5 separate regions of the Homo sapiens genome follow, and regions 1, 2, 3 and 5 are each linked to region 4. The links come from fine-mapping of genetic effects on plasma protein levels. A gene starts in region 4. Each other region holds a variant in brackets. All regions are shown on one strand. Distances are between the middles of the regions.

Region 1 (5,175 bases), 430 kb after region 4:
CCTTCCTCATCCCTCTTTTCCCCTTTCACTAGAGACAGAAACTAAAAACCGTGAGTTCAGGCAGCTAGAAACCTAAAATAAAAGAAAACGGAACAACAACAACAACAACGAAAATAAGGTGGGTTGGATAAGCTTCGAAATGGTTACTGCTTATGCAAAGGTGCAGGCCCCAGATCTTTCCTTTTACTTGGGAGAAAACAGACGCCATTCAGTGAAAGTCAACATATCCTTACTGGACACTTATTCTGTGAGGCACTCTGGGAGATAGAAATGCTATTATGGTCAGTAAATCTAGAGAGGAAAAAAGACAAGAAAACAACTATACCAAAATTGGCTACGAATCAGGTGCAAGGGCACATAAAAGAAGCAGCAATTATTTCTGATCAAAGGATTAGAGAAGAATGTGCACAGAAGGTGACACAGAAACTCAGCTTAGAAAAATGTATATTTGCGGGGAGATAAAGGGGAAGGTATTACAATGTGAGGCTGTATAAGATTCCAAAGCACAGAGATATGAATGTGAAAGGCTTAATTTGAGAAAGACAAAATGTTCATAGTGACTGAAACTTGTTAGCAGAACTTGCATAGTGCTAGCTCTAAAGAGAAGTTTGGGCTCGGTTTAGAGGGACTTTGGCTGCCATACTAGGGAGTTTGGATTCCATTCTACAGTGTGGAGGAAGATTTTTTAAAAGCACCATTTAGTAAACACTGTGGTTGCCTCCTCAACATCTATTCCCTACACTACCCCTATTGTCCTTTCTAACCAAATCCATTTTTTTTTTAAATCAGATAATCCACCTCTCCTTTATGAGATTCAGGGGACAATGAATTCATCTCCATTTCCAAGGATAGATCTGTATTAGCTTAAATCAGGCAGGCTAACTCATACTTCTTGTGCTTCCATGACAGACTCTTTCTGGGTTATACGTAATAAATATACATAAACAATATTATACTTCATTGTCCAGCATATACAAGAGGCAAACACAAATCAGAAATATTATCTTTACCAGTGGTACATGAGTCCATTTTTTGTCAAATAGAGAGCAATTGCTGCAGTAATTGCAGTTTATCACTAAGCCAGATGCAGGGGTTACTCATACATATGCCTTCTAATTGTGGGCTACTATTAATAGTCACTGGCCTCCTTCTTAAATTATTTTCAGTCATGAGCTTAACTTAATGTGGTACCATATATTCTTTCTTTTAAGGACCTTAAGAATCTGGGAAGAATTAGCCACACTCTAATTTAGGAACAGAGATGGATGAATCCACCTATGGACATTTACTGGTATGAGTCACTGGGGAAGTTCACTAAGTCACTATTTAAGATGATCCAGAACAGGTGTCTACAGCTGCCTTAAGAATGAGTACTATGGTGGTGATGAAAATGTTCCTCTCAGATGTCCAACTGCAGGGGGTGGGTATGAAATTGCCAGATGGCCCCAGCTGGTGTGCTCTGGAATCCTTGGCGCCAAGGCCATGCTGCCAGGGGCTTCTCCAGGCTGGTGATCAAATGTAGTGAGGATCCTCAGGCAGGCCCATTCCTGGAAGACATGGGACTCTCCCGATAGGTGAGTTTGGCTCAAGGACTCCTCATGGTCCTGAAAGAAACTCTCTGAGACCTGTACTTCAGTGGAAGCCTGTCTTTCCTTTGCTGTCTCCTTCCCAAGGGTTAAACCTACATTGCAGTCTAATGGTGGCTCTCCCGGCCTTCTCTGGCTCCCTCGACATTTTCTCTCACAGGCATTTCCTTTAATAAATCTCTCGCATATCTGATCCTGTCTTGGCTTTTGCTTCTTGGAGGACCCAGAATAACACAAGTACTGTCATAATTATATCTCCTCACTTTAAATCTCTCAAGTGTAATTACTAAAATTGTGTTGTAGTGGAAGTAAAAAGCAAGGTTACTAACTTGAGAGTATCTATGAAACACTCACCCATTAAGTTTCATTCTTTAGTACATTTATAATAACTTTTATTCCAATTGTAGCATGGTCTATCTCCAAGGGCAAGTTCCTGCCTGCGTCTTCATTGAAAACAGTGGAACTTTGAAGCAATGGGGGAGTTTGTTGCTTCTCTTGACAAGCGGCCAGCCCTAATTCAGAGTTATAAAAGTTTTCATATTCTGCTTTTGGCATATCTGTAAAATATACTTGGGCATACATTTTTTTTTTCTGTTTGGATCATAAGTGTGTGAAACATACGTGGTAAGAGCCAGTTATATTCCAATCACAGAGGATGTCTTGGAACACATCACTGCCACTCCAGAGGTACTGAAACTTTCTTCCTCTAGTAAGGAACATGGCTGGGGTGGGGGTGAGAAGAGATATTCTTACATTTATAAACTGTTTCTCCCACCACCAGACCAGACATAAAGTTTGATTTTGTCCTGAAGATTTCAGTTGTCTTGGAGCCAGTGGAACTGAGTTAGCCCAAGAATGAGAGTGGATGTCCTTTTTCTCTTTCTGCCTTTGAAATATCAGGTTCATTGGACAGGTGCTCAGTAGATCCAATTTTCTTTAATTGCACCTACATCAGTGTAATATAAATGTCTTCATTCACAATCCCACAAGGGTTGTAGATATCAATATGCCGGGGGATAGTGTATGGGAATTGAGGGTCATAGTAGGTCAATACTATATAAGAAAATTCCTACAGAGAGTGAGTCTAAATCCCTACTCCTATGGGACCAGCGACTATTATTGTCTATTTATTTACTTATTTGAAAATGTAAACAATTATTTCCCAGTGGACTAATTACAAAGTTCCTGTGACATCAAGATCATTCCTTCTCAAGGCTTTTCACTATATATTGAGACGTGTAGTCTTAATTTCATTTTGGTTTGCCCCAAGACTTCCACCAAGTCTAGGGGATCTGTACGGAACTATCCTTTCCCAAGGTACATCATGCATACTTTCTGCTATTATTTTTTTTTTCAGTCTGTCCCTTGTGGTCAATCAAGAGAAATGCAGACTTGAATCTCTATAAGAAGAGCAAAGGTTCTCCCTTTTTAAACCTTTGAACTGA[GA/G]AAAAAAAAAAAAAGCAGCAGCTCCTGCCATCCAGAAACTTGTCTGGCGCTAACAGCGAGGCCATATTGTTCTCCCATTGTACAAAAACAATTTCAGAAAACATCAACATCAGATAAGGTCACTCAGAGACCGTCATAAAGTAAGGCACATACACGATCACCATGCAACCCACAAAATACTGATCATCCTTCTGTTATCTAAAATGAGTAATTGCACGTTTTAGAAACCAATCGCAGCTTTATTCTCATTTTATTTATGTTTGTTTTTGAGACAGAGTTTCACTCTTGTTGCCCAGGCTGGAGTGCAATGGTGCAATCTCAGCTCACCACAACCTCAGCCTCCTGGGTTCAAGCGATTCTCCTGCCTCAGCCTCCTGAGTAGCTGGGACTACAGGCATGCGCCACCATGCCCGGCTCATTTTGTATTTTTAGTAGAGACGGGGTTTCTCCATGTTGGTCAGGCTGGTCTCAAACTCCTGACCTCAGGTGATCTGCCCACCTTGGCCTCCCAAAGTGCTGGCATTACAGGCGTGAGCCACCGCGCCCAGCCTTTATGCTTATTTTAGTCAGCTCTCCTTGTATATGTATTGAGATCGTAGTTGTAGAATTGTTTCTGGTTCTTGACAGTATGTCATCCAAAACAAAGTCTCCCTTCTTCAGACACTTCCCAAAACTATCCAACCAAAGCCCACAGCCTATAATAGGTTCTTTCTGACACCTTTTTACTGATATACCCACAGTTCTCTATGGTGTGCATTTTCCCTAGCTGCAATGAACAACAGATTCAACTTGTTTAATTATAGGTGTGTTTCCATTGGTCTTTGGCTGTAGGGCATTAATAATATTATGTACTATTAGTGCGTTAATAACATTAATAATGCCCTATAGCCAAAAGTACTTTTACCAGTGCTAGAGATCCACCAGGCTTTCTGCTAAAGGTCACTCTAACATTACGGACACAAGTCAGTTGTTTGTCTTTTAATGCTTTTGCCAGCTGAAATAGTTTATCTCAGAGTTTTCTATGAGGATCTGAGATTTAACTCTGCTCTAGGTGTTGAGAGCAACAAGCTCATAGTGCCAGTTGTCTTGTGGTTAAATGTCAAAAGCCTTAATTAAGGCTTATTATTTTCTCCTTTGGAATAGGTCGGCTCCAAGGCTACACAAGCAGCAAGAAGAAAAGGAAAAACTCTGTTTTATTAAAGCTCCACTTGCCTATCTACCTTGGTGGAGGGTCAAGAAAAGGTTTATAACCTATTTGCAGGTTTTAGGCTCCTGTTTGCAGCACAGAAACCACAGACAATAGGTAAGCCTGCTGGGCCCTGGCCTACGGGGTCTGTTCAGGAAGAAGAGGGGTCTTCTCTCTAAACCTGTGAGATCTCTTCTAGACTCTTTTATAGATTGTTTTTATATTGTATGTTTGATCATTTTGTCCTCCCCTAACCCCCTTTGGGCACTATCTCAGACTTTAAATATTCTAAATAATTTTGGCAGTATGTGAAAAATGAATTTTATGTCACTAAGCGATTCATGGAAATATTTTTTTAGTACCTACATGTACAGATTTCTTAACCAATTATGTATATTTGAGTTCCTAAGAATAGAAGTAACTTTTTAATGACCTTCAGGTACACATATTTGTATTAAAATAAACCTTGGTTCCTAACTGTCATCATTGGTCACTACATTTTTTTTTTAAGTTGCAGTTGCTTCCCAACCTCTATTTATCTTTCATTTATTTACTCATCCCTTTATTCTATTTATTTCTAATATAATGAGCACCTATGAAACGCACCCAGTCTCAGACTAGAACATCAATAACTTAAGCTACTCAAGCTTTCCTATCAAAGAAATGCTTCTTTATAGCACTGAAATGCACAAGAATCCAAATGCATAGGAAGCATTTCTTAGTTGTCTTGATTGTGAGGTAAGTTGTTTTTTTGTGTAGTTAGAAGAAAGATCTCTGAGAAGTTGAAGATCACCTTCTGCCCACTCCCTATTGAAGACTGACTGCAATGATGTGGGTCAAAGAAAGAAATCATTTTAAGAGTAGAAGCCAAGCAGGAGTACAAAGGCTTTGTAAGGAGTAGAGAACAGAGGAGGGAAATAGTCTTGAAAGAAGGGATAGAGTCTGCTACTTTTGTTG
Region 2 (5,000 bases), 9.6 kb before region 4:
CTGGTCAGTCACACCTCGTTCACATTCCCAGACAGAGCCGCGCATGGCTCCCACCCCAGCTGCCCGGATGGACCCCTCACTCTCCCCTTTGTGGGTCACCTAATGAGGTGACAAGCAAGAAGCTCATAAGCCTCGGAGGACGTCAATCCTCCTCCCGCCTGGCCTCGGCCCACAGCCCTGGCCTCCAGGATGGGGAGGGCTGTCCAGAGCCCAGGGTGACAAGACAGCGGCACCAGCAGTGAACGGACACTAACAGATAATTGCATCAGAGCCACTGGGGGGCTACCAGTACATAGTTAATTAACCAAAGTTAATTAGGTAGCAAAACACAAGAGCCCTGGGGACAACAAACCCCACATGTGCCCCCAGAGTTGGCCTAGCAAATGTGTCCCTTGATCCCTTCCCAGTGGCATCTCCCAACACACACACACACGCACACACAGGTGTGCACACGCATGTGGGGACACACGCAGGTGCACCCGACTCACCTCGATCCACATCGGTGGCGCGGTCACGCTGCCTCTGCTGCCTCTGCCGCTGGGCTCTCCTGTGGGGGTTGGGGACCAGCTCCTTCAGGGCCCCAGGACCACCTCAGGGGTCCGAGGGACTCTGGCTGAATCTTCCCCAGAAACGGGCTGGGAGTGCAGGATGGGTTTTGATACTAGGGGATGGGAGGGTCGTTGGGGCTGCAGTCAGGGGCTTCTGACCCAGGGCTGGTGGTTGGGGAGGGGGCAGGAGCTGGCACCTGGACCGGAAAACGAGAATCCCAAGCAGCAAGGCTGCACCAAGCAGCAGCCCAAAGATGACGGCTACAATCTCTCCTCCAGTCAGGCCCCTGGACACTGTAGGCACAAAGGGATGAGGAAGTGTTGGGACTCACAGTCCGTAGGAATGAGGGGGGTTAAAGGGCAGGGCCCTGGGTACACCTAGGGTCAGACCTTTCAGTGTGCATCAGGTCGGTGTCTGTCCCCTACCCCCGGAAGAAGGGAGTGTGTGTGCATGTGTGTAGAGGAAGAGGAAAAGTCACTACGTGGAACAGGAGCTGAGTTGCCTCAGTGAGGCAACAGGTGTATGTGTGTTGGGGCAGAGCACAAGATACCCCACCTGGTGGGCTGGTCCGAAACTCATGATCAGGGGAGAAAGGGCCAGGACCCAGTGGGGTCAGCATTCGGACTCTGACGATGTATGTGGTGTCAGGCTGCAGCTCTGTCAGCAAGACCCTGGGTTCTAGAACCATCTGGTACCGTTCTTCATCCTGTGGGTTGGAGTTGCATTAAGTGGGCAGTGCTGAGCCAGACCCGGGTGGATGTGATGGACAGCATCAGAGCACATGGGGAGGGGCTGGAGAGCAGAATGGTTAGGACAGGGTTCTTCATAGACTTTTGTCCTGAGAAAGCCACACAGTGGACTTCGGGTGGATTCCTCCCAACCCACACCCCAGGCTAGGAATGTTGGGGTGTGCCCGGGCATGGACACTGAAGACCATCTCTCAGTAGCATCCTGACCTGGTTCAGCACGTGCAGCTCATAGGTCAGGTTCGCCCCAGGGCTTCGGGGCCGGGACCCCGCCCAGGTCAGCTCTAGTTGCCTCGGTTCTTTCTTCACCAGTCTCAGAGACAGGCCTGACAGTGACTCTGGGGGTCCAGAGGGATAAGGTTGGATATGTAAGGAAAAAGGAAATAACCTTAGTAACTTTTCTATGGCTTCCTGCCCATCAGTTTGTTCTGTGGTCTTAAGCCCTTCTGTCTCCACCAGGTCCCTGTCCCAGCCCCTCTCAGCCTCTCACCTGCATGCCCCATGCTGATGCTGACTGAGGTGCTGGCATGGCCAGAGCTGCCCAGCCCTGACACTCCATTTTGGGCTTCCACATTAAAGGTGTAGTTGGCATAAGGTTCAAGGCCATTGACATGCACTGCAGGTGTGGTGAGCCCCCGGGCCCCC[G/A]GCGAGAAGTGCACGCCCACCCCACAGGGCTGGCAGGGCCCCCCGTCCTGTGCTGTGCCCTGACACTGGGAACACCTCACACTGTATCTGACATCCTGGCGTCCCCCCGTATCTGCTGGGGGTTCCCAACGCAGGGAGAGCTGAGTCCCTGAGGCAGAGAAGCTCAGGTTTCGGGGGGCCGAGGGGGGACCTGTGGGAGAAGAGGAGCCATCAGTAGAAGCCGACCTCGCTGTCACCCGAGCTGCTGATCCCCGGCCTCCACCACCACCCAATTCTCGATGTCCTCTGAAGTCCTCTTGGGGAGATTTGATTTCTACTGGGTTTGACTACATCTCTGCATTCTTCTAGGGAGAGCAGGGTGCCAGGGCAGGGGCTAAAAGTGCCTGACACCCTGGACCATCTCCAATATCTGACAAGCTCTGGAAAAATCCAACCCTGACAAAGTCTCAGCAAAGATCCAGCCCCTCCCTCCAGATGGCCACGCCCCACCCCCTGGACTCACCTGTGCATGCCACCTGGGGGCCCTCCCCGGGAGCTCTGTAATGGCCGCTCTCACAGGTACAGATGGTGGCCCCCTCAGACTCAGCAGTGCTCTGCTGGGGGCACGTGAGACAATGGGGTGTGTCCATGTCCATCCGGTAGGAGCCGCTAGGGCAGGCTGGAGAGAGAACGCAGCAGAGCAGTGGTTCTGTAAATGTTTTTACAGGCAGAACCACCACCACCCCTTCCTGCCCCAATCCCTTCTACTGGAAACATCTCTGCATGTGTGTGTCCGCTGCTCTGGGACACTCAGGTTAAAAACCCACTGAGGCGGAGCACTGGCCTCCTTCTCTGCCGGGGTACTCCTGCAATCCTCCCGAGTGGTTCCTCAGGTTCTCACCGCCTCCGTTCTTACCAACACATGCTTCGCCACTGCCACCTTCCTCATAGCCAGGCTCACAGTGGCACCGTCCTACAGGCACCAGCCACTCGCCATCAGGGCTGCAGTGCATGCGGGGTGCACCTGAGGGCCTGGGGCTGGCCCGCGCGTGGGGCAAGCAGGTCCCCGCCACTTCCACCAACCCAGCGGGGCCAGGCAGAGTGTCTGGGAATTGGGCCAAGCCATTCAGGGTCTCAGGACAGCGCTGGTAGAAGACCCGGACAGACACCAGGGCCACACAGGCACCCGGGTTGTGGAAAGCGAGGTAGAGGCCACGGCGGGTCAGGCGGCCCAGAGAGCAGCGCTCCACATTCAGCTTCACGGAGCCAGACACAAGGTCTCGAATGGTGAAGCTCTGGTCTGCAGCCACCGTGGTTACCTGGGTAGAAGGTGGGGAAGAAAGGGGAGCAATGGCAAAGTCCTGCTTCTTTCCCACATAACAGAAACAATCGTTTGCTTAATACTTTCCACAACCATGAACACTGAGCCTTGTATGTGTGAGGTGCCAGGCTAAGCATTTTATGTGCATTATGCTATTTAGCTCATGCAATCCTCTTATGAGGTAGGATGGCTTATTGTCTCTATTTAATAGATGAGGAAACCAAGGCTAATAGAAGATAAAGACCTTGTATAAGATCACACAGCTACCACATCATGGGGCTAGGACTGGAATCCAGGCATTGGGACTCTACAGTCCATACAATTTCTGCTATTCAGAGGCATTCCCAAACTCAGTGCCAATAACATGATGAGTTATAGAGCATATCGTTATCAATTTATTACTAGTAACAAATTTTACAACATTTTCTCTTTGGAAAGAAACAAGAGCATATCCTATCATAAAATGCTCCTTACTCTTCTGCATCCCAGGATGTTTTTTTGAGTAGGAAAGAAAGGGATGTGCTGGAGAGTACTAGCCTGCAGGGAATTGTCTTGCTACATGACTCCAGTGATACTATGGGAGTGGGTTGCTTATGAACATCGTGGGTATCAATAGGAAAAGTCTAAATAACTCTGTGCTACACTTCCCTCCTCCCCATGGTATCCTGTGATCTCAGTGGATGCTTATAAAAGCCTATAAAATAGATATAGCTGGCCCTATTGTTGTCACTATTTTATGACTAGGCAACAAAAGCTGGAGAGGTTAAATGACACCCCCAAAGTCACGGCACAGCAGAAAAGATACTCAAATCCAGCCCTTCTGATTTCCAATGCCACACTGTTCTTTTTTTCTTTAGAGACAGGATCTTGCTCTGTTGCCCAGGCTGGTGTACAGTGGCACAATCATAGATCACTGCAGCCTCAAACTCCTGGGCTCAAGTGATCCTCCTGCCTCAGCCTCCTGAGTCGCTGGGACTACAGGTATGGGCCACCATGCCCAGGTGATTTTTAATTTTTTGCAGAGATGAAGTTTTGCTATGTTGCCCAGGCTGGTCTCAAGCTCCTGGCCTCAAGTGATCTTCCCACATCGGTTTCCCAAAGCACTGGAATTACAGGCACAAGCCACCATGCCCAGCCTTCAAGCGCCAAATTCTTTTCAAGATTCTACCTCTGCACCCTCTTCCTGTCTCTGCAACCTTCTCTGGCACCCAATAAGGAGCCACCAGGGATCTGCACCAGGACCCAGATGGCATGGAGGGAAGCAGCACCTTCTGGAACAAGGGCCGTCGGAGCTGAATGCCCACATCCTGGTCACTCTCCATGTACAGAAGGTTGAAGGTCTCCTTGCAGCCCAGAGGCCCGGCTCCCCCAGGGAAACTCTTGCAGTCCCGCACGGTGAACTGCAGCTCCACGTGGACGCGGGAAGCCTCCTCCCCGCGGTAGATCCAATTGGAGCGAAGCCAGTGGTCAGTGTCTCTGCGTCCTTGCATTGGGCAGTCCTGGTACATGTACAGGGGTGTCCCATTCAGTATCTGTTGCTGTTCACTCCACTGCAAGGAGGAAATCAGAGTCAGGGACCAGATCATCCCCTGCTCCCCAAACCCTTGGTTTTTAGAGCTGATGGAGAAGCAGCTGTGTCAGAGCCCCTCAGGTTTATGCTACTTGTTCTGCCTCTCCCCACCCCTCAGCTCCAGGACAGTAGACTGAGTGTTTAGGGTTGGGGATTTGTTTGGATATAAGATGGGCAAGACAATAGTCCC
Region 3 (5,175 bases), 480 kb after region 4:
GCATATCCTCAAAGAACTGTAACAGGAGAGGAAACATGGCTTTACCAGTATGATCCTGAAGACAAAGCAGAATCAAAGCAATGGCTACCAAGAGGCAGAAGTGGTCCAGTCAAAGCAAAAGCAGATGGGTCAAAAGCAAAGGCCATGGTGACAGTTTTTTGAGATGCTCAAGGTGTTTTGCTTGTTGACTTTCTGGAAGACCAAAGAATGATAACATTTGCTTATTACTGTAGTGCTCTGAGAAAGTCAGCCATAGCTTTAGCAGGAAAACACCCAGGAAAGCTTCACCAGACAGTCCTCCTCCACGATGGCAATGACTTTGCCCATTCCTCTCATCAACTAAGGGCAATTTTGAGTTTCAATGGGGAATCATTAGGCATCCACCTTAGAGTCCTGATTTGGCTCCTTCTGACTTCGTTTCCTAATCTCAAAAAATCTGTGAAGGGCACCCATTTTTCTTTTTTTTTTGAGACGGAGTCTCGCTCTGTTGCCCAGGCTGGAGTGCAGTGGCTCGATCTCGGCTCACTGCAAGTTCCGCCTCCCAGGTTCACGCCATTCTCCTGCCTCAGCCTCCCGAGTAGCTGGGACTACAGGCACCCGCCACCACACCCAGTTATTTTATTTTATTTTATTTTTTGTATTTTTAGTAGAGACAGGGTTTCACCATGTTAGCCAGGATGGTCTCGATTTCCTGACCTTGTGATCCGCCCGCCTCGGCCTCCCAAAGTGCTGGGAGAAGGGCACCCATTTTTGTTTGGTTAATAATGTAAAAATACTGTATCTACATGGCTAAATTCCTAGGACCTTCAGTTTCTTAGTGATGGACTAAATTGCTGTTATCACTGCTTACAAAAGTGTCTTGAACTTGAAGGGGCTTATGTTGAGGCAACATTTATTTTTCAAAAAATTTTTAATTCCATTATTCCCACAAACTTCTTGAAATTCCCTCATATCTTTGGAATAATCCTCCCATTGGAAACAATAATAAAAGCTCAACAAAATATAGGAAACCAACTGAAGACTCAGAAAAGTAAACAACATAAACAGGACAAAAGGACTATAATCCTTGATGAACAGAAAACACAGGACATGAGTTGTATATTCGCTATTGCTTTTTACTTTCGGGCATTTTTCATTTTACAGTGCAGGGTTACTGAGGCTGAAAAGGAAGTGTCAGTCTTACTGGTTCAAGACTATCAAACCAGGTGGAGCTCAAAGGGCAAAGTTTCAGACATGAAGAAACCAGACAAGTTAATCTAAAATTTTATATATGAATTCCCCTAATGTCACTGGCTGATTCCTAAGCTATGCATGCAATAGGAGAGACCTCAAGGAAACTTGTAGGAAATAGTGGCCAAAGAGCTAAACAGTTGAGCAGTCATTTCAGTGGTTATATTGTTCTGAGAAAAGCAATGGAGTTTATGCCCCAACAAAAAGAAACATTCTAATAAACACTCCATGATTTCAGTTGACACATAAGAAAATCCCTGACATATGAAGAAGCATATCTTATGGTTTAAAGACTATGTTCTTGGAGAAAGATCAAACCTTAAATGGGCTAGTCCTAACAAAGCCTAAAACTAATATTTGATAGCATCAAAGTAATCTGCTGGTACTTTATCTGCCCACTTCCCCAAAAAATCCTCTTGAAAGAAAATAACATCAATCAAAACCTTTATATTTTTTCATCCACAATATTCTGCATTGAATCAAAAATTAGGAAAGCAGTTAAAAAAACAGAATAAGTTGCCAATAACTCAAGAGAAATAACAGAAAATAAACACAGGCACAAGTGGTTCAGATACTTGAGTTCTTAGAGAACTTAACTGTGATTCATACGTTAAGAAATTAGAAACAAGGCTGTGGAATTTCAGCATAGAAATAAAACTCATAAAAAAGTAAAATGAAAAATTAAAAAAGAAAAATAATAATAATTAAAATTGGTACTTAATAGATTGCTTTAATAGCATATTAGACACAAAAGACCAGAGAATTGGTGAAGTATAGCAAAGGTAAGTAGAAAGTATCCATACATAACATAAGAGGAAAGAAAACATGATACACAAAGAGATCAAAAGATACAGAAAGAGTGTAACAGGATTATGAGATAGGGTGAAAAGTTGTGACACATGAGTAATCACAGTCCCAGACGGAAAGGAAGGAGATAATAAAACAAGCAAAATGTTATCAATTAATGATTTGAAAAACATCAAACCACAAGCTGAAGAAACTTTATGTTCCCCGAGCAGAATACACAGAAAGAAAACTACATTGAGACACATCACATTCAAACTGCTGAAAACCAAATTCATAGAGAAAATCTGAAAAGCAGCCAGAGATAAAGGATACTTTTCATTTAAATGAACAAAAAATACAGCTAATTTTTCAAAAGAGTGATGAAAATAAGAACACAACAGAATTCCTAAAAGATGAAAGAAAAAGAAAAATCTGCCAACCTAAAATTCTATACACAAGAAAAATATTCCTCAAAAATAAAGGCAATGTAATTTTAGATACACTAAAGCTGAAAGCATTTTCCACTAGAATATAACTACTAAAACTAATTTTTTATGAAAATTATTCCTCATAGAAGT[A/C]CAGTGCTGTAGGAATTAATAGAGAACACTGAAAAGAGTAAATACATAGGCAAATATAAATGAATATTGACTGTTTAAATAAACAAAATGCCTTATGGAATACAGAAGCATATAAAAAATAAAACAGACAATAGTACAGCTGCAAGATGGAGATAAACTTAAAATTTTGCATTGAGAATACATAGAAGTAATAATTTAAGGTAGGTCATAATAAATCAATAAGGTGAACTGTAATATCTAAAGTAACCATTAAAATAATTTAAAAAATTATAATTCAAAATATTGAAGAAAAATTAATAGAAAGTGTTGAATTCGAAAGAAATCAAGAAAAGAGAAAATAACAAAGAAGAAATGGAACAAAGAGAAAACTGTGCAAATTGGTAGACTTTAACCCAATTTTTTTTTTTTTTTTTTTGGAGAAGGAGTGTCACCGTTGCCAGGCTAGATTGCAGTGGTGCGATCTTGGCTCACTGCTGCCTCGGCTCACTGCAACCTTGCTTAAACCCAATATTTATAGATTGCATGTTTGTGTCCCTCCAAAATTTGTATGTTGAAATTCTAACCCCCAATGGAATGGTATTAGGAAGTGGGCCTTTGGGAGGTAATTAGATGTAGATGATGTCATGAGTGTGAAACACTCATAATGGGATTAGTATCTTTATAAGACGAGAACGAGACTAGAGCTCCCTCTCTTGGCCATGTGAAAATACAGTGAGAAAGGTAGCTGTCTATAAGCTAGGAGGCCAGCCCTCACCAGACATTAAATCTGCTGGTTTATCTTTAAATGTTTGTTGTTTAACCACCAGTCTATCACATTTGTGTCACAGCAGCCCAAAACAACTAAGATACCAACTATATAAATAATTATACTAAATATAAATGGATTAAAAATCCAATTAGAAAAAGAGTTCATTTAGAAGAGAAATATTGAAAGTGAAAGGATGGAAAAAGGTACACCAAGCAAACATTAACCAAAAGAAAGCTAGTATGGCTTATGTACAATGGGCAAAGTAAACATTACTGTCAGCAAGTGTTACTGTAGATATAAAACAAATTTCATAATGATAAAAGGATCAATTCAGTACAGCAATACAAAAATTTTAAATTTGTATCCTTAATAACTTCAAAATTTATAAAGCAAAGTTGACAATAATAAAAGAAGAAAAGACAAGTCCACAAGCATAGTTGAAGATTTAAGTACATTTTTCTCAGTAATCTGAATAAACAAGTGCATAAAAATCAGTAAGGATATACATGATTTGAATAACATAATTAACAAATTTGACCCTGTTGACACATATGGTACATATACACCTACCAACAACAGAATATACATGATTTTTAGTGCGTGTCAAACATTTTCTCAAATAAAACATATACTGGGTATGAAGCAAGTCTCAAGAAACTCAAAAAGATGTAGAATATATTCTCTGATCTTAATGGAATTAAACCAGAAATAAATAATTTTTATTTATTTAATTAGAAAATTCCCACGTTTGGAAATTAAGGATCACACTTCTGAACACCCCTTAGGTCAGAGAAGAAATCACAATGGAAATTAGAAAATATCTTAACTAAATAATAATTAAAATACAATTTATCAAAATTTGCAGGAGGCAGCAAAAGCAATTACTTAATAAAGGAATTACTTAATAAAGGAAAACTCTATAGCTCTAAATGCATACATTAATAAAAGGGAAAGACTGAAAGTAAACTATTTCAAAACATTAGAAAAAGAATAACAAATTTAAAGTAAATCAGAGAATATAATAAACATAAAAGCAAGAATCAAATTTTAAAAAATTTAGAAATTCAGTAAAACCAAAAGTTGGTTTTAATGAACCAAACTAAGAATGATCAATAAAGAGACACAGAGAGAGAATCCATTATAATTATCAGGGGACATTATTGCAGTCCCAAAAGACATTAAAAATATAACAAAGTGATATTACAAGTAATCATATGCCAATAAATTTAACAAACTCAGATGAATTTGCAAATTGTTTAAACAACATAATTTATCCAAAACAGCAAGAAGAAGCAGAAAATATAAATAATCCTATACATAAAAAAAATGCAGTCCAAAATCAAAAACATTCTGCAAAAAAGTTTAGTCCCAAAAGGATTTTTATGGTGAATTTTTCTAAACACTTGAGAAAAATATAATACTAATATCATAAAACTTCTTCCAGAGACTAGTAAATGAAGAAACTCTTCCCAACTCATTTTTATTACACCCAGCATAACTTTGATAGCAAAATCTCGTAAGTACATTATAAGAACAAAAACCTAGAGACGAATATTACTCAATGAACATAGATTCAAAAAGTCTAATGGTGTGAAATGCCTTTTCAATAAGTAGTTCTTGATTGATTAGATGTCTATATAAAAACCAATGAACCCTTAACCCATACCTCATATCATATACAAAAAATACTCTGAGATAAATTATAAAACTAAATGTGAATGGTAGAACTATTAAGCATAAGGAATCTTTTTGTGACCTAGAGGTAGGCAAAATTCTCGTCAATACAACTCAAGTCCTAAGCATAAATGTTTGGATTTATTAACAATAAAAATT
Region 4 (5,000 bases):
TATTCCATCTGGTGTTCATGGTACCATTTGTAATAACCGTTATAGTAAGCCAGTAAATCCAAGTCAATGTTTCCCTGAGTTCTGTGAGCCATCCTAGCAAACTAATTGAACCCGAGGAGGAGGGTCAGGTAAACCTGATTACAGCCGATGGAACAGAAGTATAGGTGACAACATGTTACTTGTGATTGTTGTCTAGAGGAGGGCAGTCTTGTGGGGCTGAGCCCTCAACCTGAGGCTATCTCCAGGTAGATAGTGTAAGAACTGAATAAGATTAGAGGACACTCAGCTACTGTCCACTGAAGAATCTGCCAGAGAGAACTGACTGCAGGCGGGAGGAATCCCTACACGCATTTTGGTGACCACAGGTCACCGAAGTGATTTGTGTTGAGAGTGCAGTAGGAAAAAACTGAGTTTGGTTTTTTGTACATCATAAGAGCTGCTCTCTGCATTTGAGTCTGAATATGCTCTCTCAGACCCACCTCACAACCTGTTCACTGAGTCTTAGGAACATCCAAGGAAGGAAGGGAACTGGAACAAGCTCTGACACTTTCAAACAGCTGGAATGCATGGTGTGCACGCAGTCAGCCTGAGGAGGTGTGGAGGATGAGCTAAGGGCTCAGAAACCTTTAGGGGAGCAGCTTTTAACTTCGGAGGAGTCAAAGACCCTTTGAAGAATTTGATGAAAGCTTTGGCTGGTCTCTCCAGAAAAAAAAATGCCCGCTTACATATACAGAATTTAGAGTACACTTTCATGGGGTTTCCCCACCCCCTGAAACCTATCAATGCAACTTCATTGGGATGAATGGATCTCAGATTGAGGATGCTTTTCTGCCTTTTCTATCCCTCCCCAAGCAAAGCACTGGTCTCAGCCTTCAACCATCCCCAGCATGGTGCATTCTCTCCCCGGGTATGTGAGCTCCTCTCCCCCTCACAAGTATCAGCTTGTATTCACAATATTCCCAAGTATTCACTGGAGGAGCCAGGCCATTCAAGCGTTCATCTTGAGGTGAAGTCTGACCCCCCCACCCCTTGTCCCATTGAGGAGGCTCTGACTCAGCCTCCTCTCCCCCTCCCTGAGGAGACACTTCCAGTTTTTCCTGCTCTTTTCTCTGTTCCTCCACCCACCTCTCCACCCCATTTCCCACTGGCCTTCAGGAGTTTTCCAAGATCCTTCCCTCTTCCGACACTTACCCCATCTTTTGGGGGATCCAGCAGCCAGCCCAGCTCTCCCTGTGCCTTGCTTGTGTCCATCAGAGTAACTGAAAGTGGGGAGAAAAGAAGTCTGTCACCTCTGGGGGAGGAGGTGCCCCTGCAGCCCACATTAATCATTCTGGGGCCTCAGCCCCAGGCTGCAACATCCTGTTCCTAAAAGCTGTGACTTCCTGAGGCTTAGGGGAGAAAAAGGGCTCAGGACTGAGGAGTGAAGAGCTCCAGGGATTTCACTCTTCTTTGTGTGTGTGAAGGAAGGCAGGTAGAGTGGGACAAGGGTTGGGGCGCTGGGTCTTTGACCAAAGTCAATGCAAGAAGAGCAGCCCCACGAGACGCTCAGTTACCCAGGCTGCTGCGTCCTGGGACACCCATCAGCTGCAGGATTGGAACGCGTGGAGGGCAGGAGGAGCTCACCTCTGCTAGCCAGGAGTGGGCAGGGTGGACCGGGGACCTCAGAAGGGGTTTCCTGGGTAGGGAGGCTCACCTCCACTGTCCGAAGCCTGCTTTGGCCTGACCTGGCCAGTGATCAGAGCCGTGAAGTGGGGATAAGAGGCACAGCTACCTGCCTGGGAAGTGGGGGGGAGTAAGGCCGGAGAGGGTGTTCCAACTTTCACATGGAATATTCGACTCGGACAACTGGGAACCCCTGTGGCGTCAGTCCTAACCCTTCTCCCGGAGGCAGCTCCCTCTGTCCCTGGCCTAGGTTGGCAGGAGGCGACTTCCCACCTTCAACTTCCAAGGGCTCAGATCTCTGGGGTGGGCACCTGAAGCTGGGACTGTCTGGGAATGCAGGCAGGGGTGCGGGTGCAGGTGCTACTTCCTGGCAAGGGTCCGGAATTCCCTCCCCACTCCCAGGAGCAGATTGCTGGCCTGCGGGAGTGGGGGTGACTGACCCGGGAGAGCAGCCGCTTGGGGTTAAAGACCAAAGATGGGCCTGGCCAGTCGATAGCCTGGCGGTCGGGCACAGCGAGAGAGCTGGCGAGGGTCTCGGGGAACATGGCCCCTAGGAATGCCGGCTTCTGCAGGGGGGTGCTGGCCGGGCCCCGGGAAGGGGCGGGGCGCGGGGGTTGGGGGCGCGGGGGCGGGGGTCGGTACCTTCCTTGGCGCGCGCCCCCGGGGGCAGCGGGGCGCAGAGCAGCAGCACCAGCCCTAGCCCCAGGGGCCAGCGCCGCTCCATAGCTCCGGGCCGGGACCTGGGACAGTGGCCCGGATGGCAGCGCCAGGTTGCAAGGGACTAGGAGAGCCGGGCGGGCCGGGCGGGGGCGGGGGGCGGGGCCAGCGCCGGGGGCGGAGTCCCGGCCTCACCTGGTTCACCTCCTTAAAGGGACAGTAGGGCAGGAAAGAAACTTGCTAGACTGGTAATCAAATTCAAGAACCGGAGGCGTCTTGACCCGAATGAGACTGCGGGCGCCGCCTAGTAGGTGGGATTAAGAATTGACGAACCTTTTCCCAATTCTAATCCTAAACTCAACCCAATCTTGATCCAGCTTTTAACCTAATTCTACCTCTGACTTGAATTACACTCCTATATTCCTCTTTCTGTCTTTGTGCAGGCCCCAGAGCTGGGTAATAGGGCCGGGGAAGGCAAGGGGTAAGAGTCATATCTTCACCCTCTAGCAGGGGAGGCTTAGATGACCACAATGCAAGGTGGGGTACAACCTGCAGTGAAGCATCTGGAGATTAGAAGAGGAAGCAAGCCCAGTCATCGGGGCACATTAGTTGAGTCTTCAGGGAGAGCTGGTGTGACCTGGGTTTTCAGTGGCAGAGATTGGGAAAGGCACCAGCAAGGGCCTGAAGGCAGGGAGCCTCAAGGTGCGCCCAGGGAGTGGTGAATGGACCAGTTTGACTGCTGGGGCGCAGGATTTGTCTTGGGAATCAGGGCAGAAAGGCAGGTGTGGGCCAGGGCTGGGTAAACAAGAAAAGGAGTTTGAACCTTGACATGCACTTACACAGCAGACATGAATATCTGGTTAAGGTTCCAGCCACAGGTGGCAGGGAAGGATATTTTAACCCATCTTAGTGGTGTCAAACCACGTGCCCTCTCACTTTCTTGCGGACTTCCTTATATTCTTTTTCTTTTTTGAGATGGAGTCTCGCTCTGTGGCCCAGGCTGCAGTGCAGTGGTGCAATCTTGGCTCACTGCAACCTCCGCCTCCCTGGTTCAAACGATCCTCCTGCCTCAGCCTCCCGAGTAACTGGGATCACAAGCGTCAAGCGTGCACCACCACACCCAGCTAATTTTTCTATTTTTAGTAGAGACGGGGTTTCACCATGTTGGCCAGCCTGGTGTCGAACTCCTGACCTTAGGTGATCCCTCCTGATCTCAAGTGATCTCCCTGCCTCTGCCTCCCAAAGTCCTGGAATTACAGGCCTGAGTTACTGCGCTCTGCCGAGACTTTCTTATATTCTATTTAGTAAATGTTTGTTCAGTTTCTGCTATGCATGCAGGAAGCTCTAGAAGCACCTAAGAACAGAAGGACAATGTCTTGCCCTATATAAGCTATTAATTTGGGGATGCTGGGGGTTGAGACATAAATAATTGCACAAATGATTGAAATGGCGGGCAGGAGTGGACCCCAGGCAAGGTACACACAGGGATCACAGTAGCTCAAAGGGGAGTGATGCATTTACTAAAGAGGCTGGGGGTCCACTCCTGGCCCCTCCTTCTTTCGCTCCATCCCATCTGGGTAAATTGTTCATAATTTTTCTATCATTTACATTGTTGCACATTTCGGTACTGTGAATGAAGGGAGGTGGTGGATTATAGGTGCTTTTTCTCATTTTCAAAATGTAATGCTTCTCAGGTTTTTTGTTTTTTTTTTTTGCTTTCTTATGCAGATACGTATATGACAAACACGGCCCATCAGTTCTTGGCTCAGACTATCCTTATTTGCATAAATAAATGTAATTCATGTACATTGGTTAGGAAATTCATGTTGAACATACAGAAACAAAATGGGAAGTAGAACCCTCTGCCCTCCAACACTCTAATTTCTGTTCCCCAAGTTAACCACCATCAACTGTTTCTTGTAAGTCCTCCCAGGATTGCTTCCTCGCTGTGTACACACCATCGTGTATTTTTCCCTCCCTCTCTCCCTCTACTCCCACACTTACATGCTTTTAAAATGTGTATACAGAGGGGCCATCTGACACACATTGCTCTGCACCAGAGGCCTCTTTTCTAATGTTAAAGACTCCAGGAAGGAGGAGGAGGCTCACGCTGGCTGGCGGGGGTCAGAGCTTTGTGATTTCAGCAGGGAGGAATGGGCGAAGGGTACAAAGCCAACAGAAGGGGGGAAATGGAGCAAGCGTTGGACAATTGCTGCTAGGACATAAGCCAGACTGTGGTGAGGTAATGCATGTGCTTGCTGCTGCAGTTTGTTAAAGTTACAAGACCCTTGGGACTCCAGAGGGTGGGGGGTGGGGGGTGGGTGTGTGGAGTGGGGGAGACTGCTCCATGCAGTGAGACATGGAGTCTAGAACCCTGGAAAAAAAAGTCTTGCTTTTTGTTTTAGGATAGGCTCTTTATCCTGGTCTGAAAGTCTCTGCATATGGGGAATGAATGTCCACTTTCTGTCTCCTTTCAGGATTATCTTGATTTGACATTTTCTGGTTAGTTTGTCATGAGAGGAGGCACATCTTCAAGTTTAGTCTCTGTTCTTAACTAGCAGTACAACTTTTGTCAAATTATTTATGTTCTCTGGACCATGGTTTCAGTTTCCCTAGACCTAGATGATTTCTGAGGCTATATTCAGGGATGGTCTCAGAAAATAAAAAGCTAGCAGGATTTT
Region 5 (5,175 bases), 490 kb after region 4:
TATTTAATACACTGATGGTATTAAATAACAATAATCATTTGATACTTGCGGGGTAAGAGACAAGGTACTAAGGATCAATTTAACTTAAGTATGCTAAATTAAATCTGTTATAAAACTAGTTAAACATCTTAAAAATTAGGAATTATATGCGTTAAACCTATTATAAAATTAAAACATCAGAACTAAGACATGTAACTTCCAAATAAAAGAAAGAAAAAAATGGGCAAAGAAAGAAAGAAGGAAAAAAATGGGTGGGGGGAGGGGCAGGGAAAGAAACATAAAAGGCAGGAAAAATAAAAAGCAAATAATAAGATGGTAGAAATAAATCTAACTTTGTATTACTAATCACAATAAATATACACAGATTATTCAATGACAAGTTATAAATTGTCAAACAATATTTTAAAAATCCAGACTTTTAAAAAATCCAAATAAGTTTACTACATATATATTTAAAACAGATTCTGAAGAGTTAGAGTCAAACGATAAAAGAGAGATAAATGAGGCAAAAACCAAAGAAACCTTGATTTGATCTTTGAAAAAAATACGATTTTAAAACAGAAAACATTAATAGGTATCATAATGTAAGGTCCCTACATTATGATAAAATGTTCAATTTACAACAATTCACTGATAACATAGCCTCAAGATATATGAAGCAAAAATATATACATTTATGAGAAATTATCAAATCCACCATCATGGTGAGAATATTTAACATACCTATTTCTGTAATTGGCAACTCAAGCAAATAAAAAGTTAAAGATATGTAAGATTGGGTTGTATAATTAAAACAGTTGATACACAGAACATCATGTAATTACAGACTACACATTCTTTTTACGCACACAAAGAAAACTTACTGGGTTTTAAAGCTAGCTTCAGCGAATTTAAAAGAATTGGCACTATGCAATCTCTGACTACAATATAAATTAGGCAACTACAACTACAAGATAACAAAAGAAACTTCATATGGCCAAATGGAATTTAAAAGGTACATTTATAAAAAATTCATGTCTCAAAGAACAGACTATAAGGAAAATTATAAATAATTAAAGCTACATGGTCAAAAATAATCATATCAAAACTTGTCAGATGTAGCTAAAAAGTAGTGATAGAAATGTATAGCTTTAAAAGCTTACATAGGAAGAAAAGCTCAAAATTAATGAGCTAAGCATATAATTTAAAAGCTTAGAAAATAAATCACAGAAAAAATTCAAAGAAAGAAGAAAGTAATAAAATAGGTAAAAATTAGAAAAAGACATAAAGCTTTTATGTTGGTGTTTGAAAAACTAATAATGTAGACCATGTTCTGGAAAAATTAAAACAAAAAGAGAAAATGTACACATATTAACAATGAAAAAGTGGCCATATCAATAGATAATGGAAAGATTTATAAACAGAATGAGAGGATTTTATAAACAGTTTTATTTTGTTAATCTTGAATATATATATATATATATATATATATATATATATATATATATATATTCATATATAAACACTTCATCCTTGAATAATCCAGGTTTGAACCGCGTTGGTCTGGATTTTCTTCTGTCTCTGCCACCCCCAAAGACAGCAACACCAACTCCTCCCTTCCTCCTCATCCTTAGCCTACTCAATGTGAAGATGACAAGGAAGACCTTCATGATGATTCACTTTTACTTAATGAATGGTAAATATGTTTTCTCTTCCTTATGACTTTCTTAATAACATTTTCTTTTTCTCTAGTTAAGAATATAATGCATATATAAAACATGTGTTAATCAACTGCTTATGTTACTGGTAAGACTTCCACTCATTAGTAGGCTATTAGTATTGAGTTTTGTAGGACTCAAATGTTATATACAAATTTTCAATTCTGAGGGGGGTCAGTATCCCGACTGCTCCATTGTTCAATGGTCAAATGTATTTATATATATTGAATAAACATATACATGTACGTATACTGATACATTCATGTATATGTGAAATTGTTAAATATCTTGGAAAATACAATTTACTACAACTGACTCCATAGGAAAACCTAAATAGTACTATAATCATTAAAATCTTCTGAAAAAATACACTCCAAACACAGATGATTTTACAGGTGATTCAAGGAAATATTCAAGGACCAGATAATCCCAATCTTGCACAAATTCTTCCAAAGAATAGCATAAGGGAGAATACTATTCATATTATTTTATGATAATACCAGCATCAGAAAAGGATAGTACAGAAAAGTATAATTACATGCCAATCTTAAATCACACGTATAAATATAAATATCCAATGTTTACCTTTTGTATCTATATCCACATACAGAAATTACTACATATTTACCACAAAAGGTTTATTCCAAGAATACAAAATTGGTTTAATATCAGAAATTAAATACTATACTTTACTATGTTGTTAATATAGTTAAAGGAAAAAAAGTATATATATTCTCAACAGCTACAGGAAAAGCATTTGAAAAAACATCCATTTATAATAAAAGTGCTTACCAAAAGAAGAACAGAATTTTCTTATGATGGGGAAGACATTTACAAAGTAACTATAGCAAATGTCATTTTTAAGTTGACATAATGAAATATTTCTCATTATTATCTTAAGGACAAAACAAGATGCCCTTTATTACTTTTATTCAACAGTGTACTGGAGCTCCTAGTCATTGTCATAAGACAGAAAAAATAAATTGAAGGTATGAGAATTAGAAACGAATAAACAAAATTATCATTATTTTCGGATGATATGATTGCCTATGTAGCAAATCTGAAAGAAGCTACAGG[T/C]AAATTTAGAATTATTAATTTTCTCAAGTTTGATTGATATATAATTAATATATAAAAGGCAACTGAATTTCTGTATGCCAGCAACAATAAACTACAAAATATAACTTTTACAAAAGAAAATGCTTACAATAGCAGTAAAAATATGACGTGCCTAGAAATTTAACAAAAACTGAGCCAAAAGAAAACAATAAAAAATAGTACAAAACATTGAAGATGACTTAAATAGTGTCATATACCATGTTCATTGAGGAAAAGGGCCAATGTCTTAGAAATAATTTCTGCCCAAAATAATTTATAGAGTGCAATGGTTTGAATGTGTCCCTCAAAAAGCAGGTGTTGGAAACTTAATCCCCAATGCAATGGTGTTAAGAGGTGGGCTTAATGAGAGGCCATCAGGTCATGACAGCAGAGTGAATGAATTAATGCCATCACTGTAGGAGTGAGTTCATTATAAAAGGCGGCATTCACCCTCCTTTTACACTCTCTTTCAGCCTTTCTCTGCCTTTATGCCATGGAATGACACAGTAAGAAGGCTCTTTCTTGCCAGATGCCAGCCACTCAATCTTGGACTTCCCAGCCTCCAGAACTGTGAGCTGATAAATTTTTGTTCCTTATACATTACTCAGTCTCAGGTATTCTGCTATGGTAGCACAAAACAGACTAAGACACAGAGTTGATCCATTATCAATCAGAATTCCAACAGGTTTATTTGCTTGTTTGTTTCTTGTTTTGGAGAACTTGATAAGTTTATTTAAATATTTATATGGAAGGTCAAAGGTCCAAGTAAAGCTAAAACACTCTTAAAGAAGAAGAAACAGGTGATAGGACTTTTCCTACCAAATTTCAAGGCTTTTAATAAAACTATAGTGGTTAAAAATTATTTAGTATTGAGGCAGAGTTAGACAAATAGAAAATAAGAATGGGGGCTTAAAACGAATTCATGCTTATATGGAAATCCTGATTCATGCAAATCACTGGTGCTGGGGCAACAGATTATCCATATGGAATAAACAACATAAAAATCAGTTTCCATGTGGATTAAGACTAATTGCCAAAGGCAAAACTATAACACTTTTAGAAAACGATACACTAAAATTAATCTATGATCTTGAGAAAACAATTATCAAACAAGAAAAGCTATAAAAGAAAGTACTACTAACTTGAAATTAAATTCAAAACTTAGATTCATTGATAGAAACAGAGAAAGAAACAGATATAAAGACATAGAGAGAAAGAAAACCTCAAAAGCAAATTGGAAAGATGTCTGTGGCATATATAGCTAACAATTACTGCTTCGTACCCAGATTATATAAAGAAAGCATTCCAATGAGTCAATAAAAAAGGTAAACAAACAATCCAATACAAAAATGAAAGAGACAGGAATCAGAATTTCACAAAGAGAAAGCACTGATCAACATATAAAAAGTCAATCTCATTAGTTATGGAAAATGCTAGTTAAAATCACAGTTAAATGCTATTTCATACCTGCCAGACTGACAAAAAATGTAATTTTACAAGACTAAGCTGTGGCAAGCATGTAGAGCAACAAGAATGCTCATCCACTGCTGGAGGGAGTGCAAACTGGTTTAACACTTTGGAAAGTTTAGAAATGACCCAATAAAATTGAATACACATAAATCTTATAACTCCGCAATTCTACTCCCAGCTATATACTCTAGGGAAGCTCCCACACAAGTGTACTTGAATATTAGAGGACATGGGCAGGCTTTAAAGTGGCCCCGATAATCCCTGCCTCCAGGTGTTCATGTCCTTGTGTCACCCCCTTCCCTTCAGTGTGAGTTGGGCCTAGGGACTCACTTCTAATGAATATAAAATGGCAAAAATAATGGGATGTCGCTTCTGAGGTTACAGAAAGAATCTGACTTCTGTCTTTCTCTTTTTCTCTGTGGGAGCCTTCTCTCTGGGGGGAGTAAGCTGCCATGTTGCAACCATTCTTTATACAGAGGCCCATGTGGCAAAGAACTGATGTGTACAGCCAGGGTCAGTGAGGCCAATCGGCCTGCCAGCAGTCATGTGAGTAAGCCTGGGAGAGGTCCTCGACCCTACGCCTAGCCTTGAGATGACTGAGGCCCAGTCAATACCTTGATTGTTGATACAGCTTGTGAGAGACCCTGAGTCAGAGACTCCCAGCTAAGCCCCTCCTGGATTCCTGATCACAGAAACTGTAAGATAGGAGGTAACAGGACTTGTTTTGTTTGTTCGCTTTGGTTTGAAGCTGCTAGGTGTTGGGGTAATTTGTTACATAGCTTATAGATAAATCATACACCTCCAAAAGTAGAAACAATCCAATGTCCATCAGCAGTAGAATGGATAAATTATGTACATTTACACCTTAAATGACGAAAACGAAAATGGAAGGAAGCATGAAAGATGAATCTAT

Direction of the effects. Alleles are on the strand shown, and positions count from the first base shown. The strength of an association depends on the size of the effect and on how common the allele is. Not every link is listed here.
For the plasma level of the protein whose gene starts at base 2,437 in region 4, G is the high allele of the variant in region 1 and GA is the other (weak association).
As copies of A replace C in region 3, the plasma level of the protein whose gene starts at base 2,437 in region 4 goes down (moderate association).
For the plasma level of the protein whose gene starts at base 2,437 in region 4, allele C in region 5 goes with a lower level than allele T (moderate association).

Evidence for each region. PIP is the posterior inclusion probability: the model's chance that the variant is causal. Protein levels are from antibody-based Olink assays in UK Biobank. Linkage for the fine-mapping came from a reference panel and not from the study's own genotypes, which makes the PIPs less certain.
Region 1: its variant is fine-mapped to the plasma level of the EPHA1 protein (UK Biobank, PIP above 0.99).
Region 2: its variant is fine-mapped to the plasma level of the EPHA1 protein (UK Biobank, PIP above 0.99). The variant lies in the coding sequence of EPHA1. If it changes the protein, the assay may bind it differently, which can mimic a change of level.
Region 3: its variant is fine-mapped to the plasma level of the EPHA1 protein (UK Biobank, PIP above 0.99).
Region 5: its variant is fine-mapped to the plasma level of the EPHA1 protein (UK Biobank, PIP above 0.99).

What each region holds. Positions count from the first base shown.
Region 1 is chr7:143,838,918-143,844,092 of GRCh38, forward strand. It overlaps LOC112267988 (a long non-coding RNA gene), which reads left to right and starts at 34. Exons shown (of 3, transcript XR_007060571.1): 1 at 34-4,335. The variant GA/G (reference allele first, on the strand shown) is at 3,032.
Region 2 is chr7:143,396,816-143,401,815 of GRCh38, forward strand. EPHA1 (EPH receptor A1) reads right to left here. Exons shown (of 18, transcript NM_005232.5): 3 at 4,509-4,790; 4 at 2,836-3,238; 5 at 2,443-2,598; 6 at 1,786-2,130; 7 at 1,506-1,633; 8 at 1,105-1,255; 9 at 746-842; 10 at 489-547. Among named protein-coding and RNA genes, the nearest start is that of EPHA1-AS1, 8.5 kb to the right of the region's middle. The variant G/A (reference allele first, on the strand shown) is at 1,941.
Region 3 is chr7:143,889,539-143,894,713 of GRCh38, forward strand. All of the region lies in intron 1 of TCAF1 (TRPM8 channel associated factor 1), which reads right to left. The region is part of intron 2 of LOC105375549 (a long non-coding RNA gene); the gene reads left to right. Among named protein-coding and RNA genes, the nearest start is that of TCAF1, 10 kb to the right of the region's middle. The variant A/C (reference allele first, on the strand shown) is at 2,595.
Region 4 is chr7:143,406,420-143,411,419 of GRCh38, forward strand. EPHA1 (EPH receptor A1) reads right to left here and starts at 2,437. Exons shown (of 18, transcript NM_005232.5): 1 at 2,305-2,437; 2 at 1,192-1,259. The coding sequence starts at 2,386. EPHA1-AS1 (EPHA1 antisense RNA 1) reads left to right here and starts at 1,394. Exons shown (of 5, transcript NR_033897.1): 1 at 1,394-1,467. RefSeq lists an enhancer at 2,509-3,121.
Region 5 is chr7:143,895,687-143,900,861 of GRCh38, forward strand. The region is part of intron 1 of TCAF1 (TRPM8 channel associated factor 1); the gene reads right to left. LOC105375549 (a long non-coding RNA gene) reads left to right here. Exons shown (of 3, transcript XR_007060574.1): 3 at 1,526-5,175. Among named protein-coding and RNA genes, the nearest start is that of TCAF1, 3.9 kb to the right of the region's middle. The variant T/C (reference allele first, on the strand shown) is at 2,775.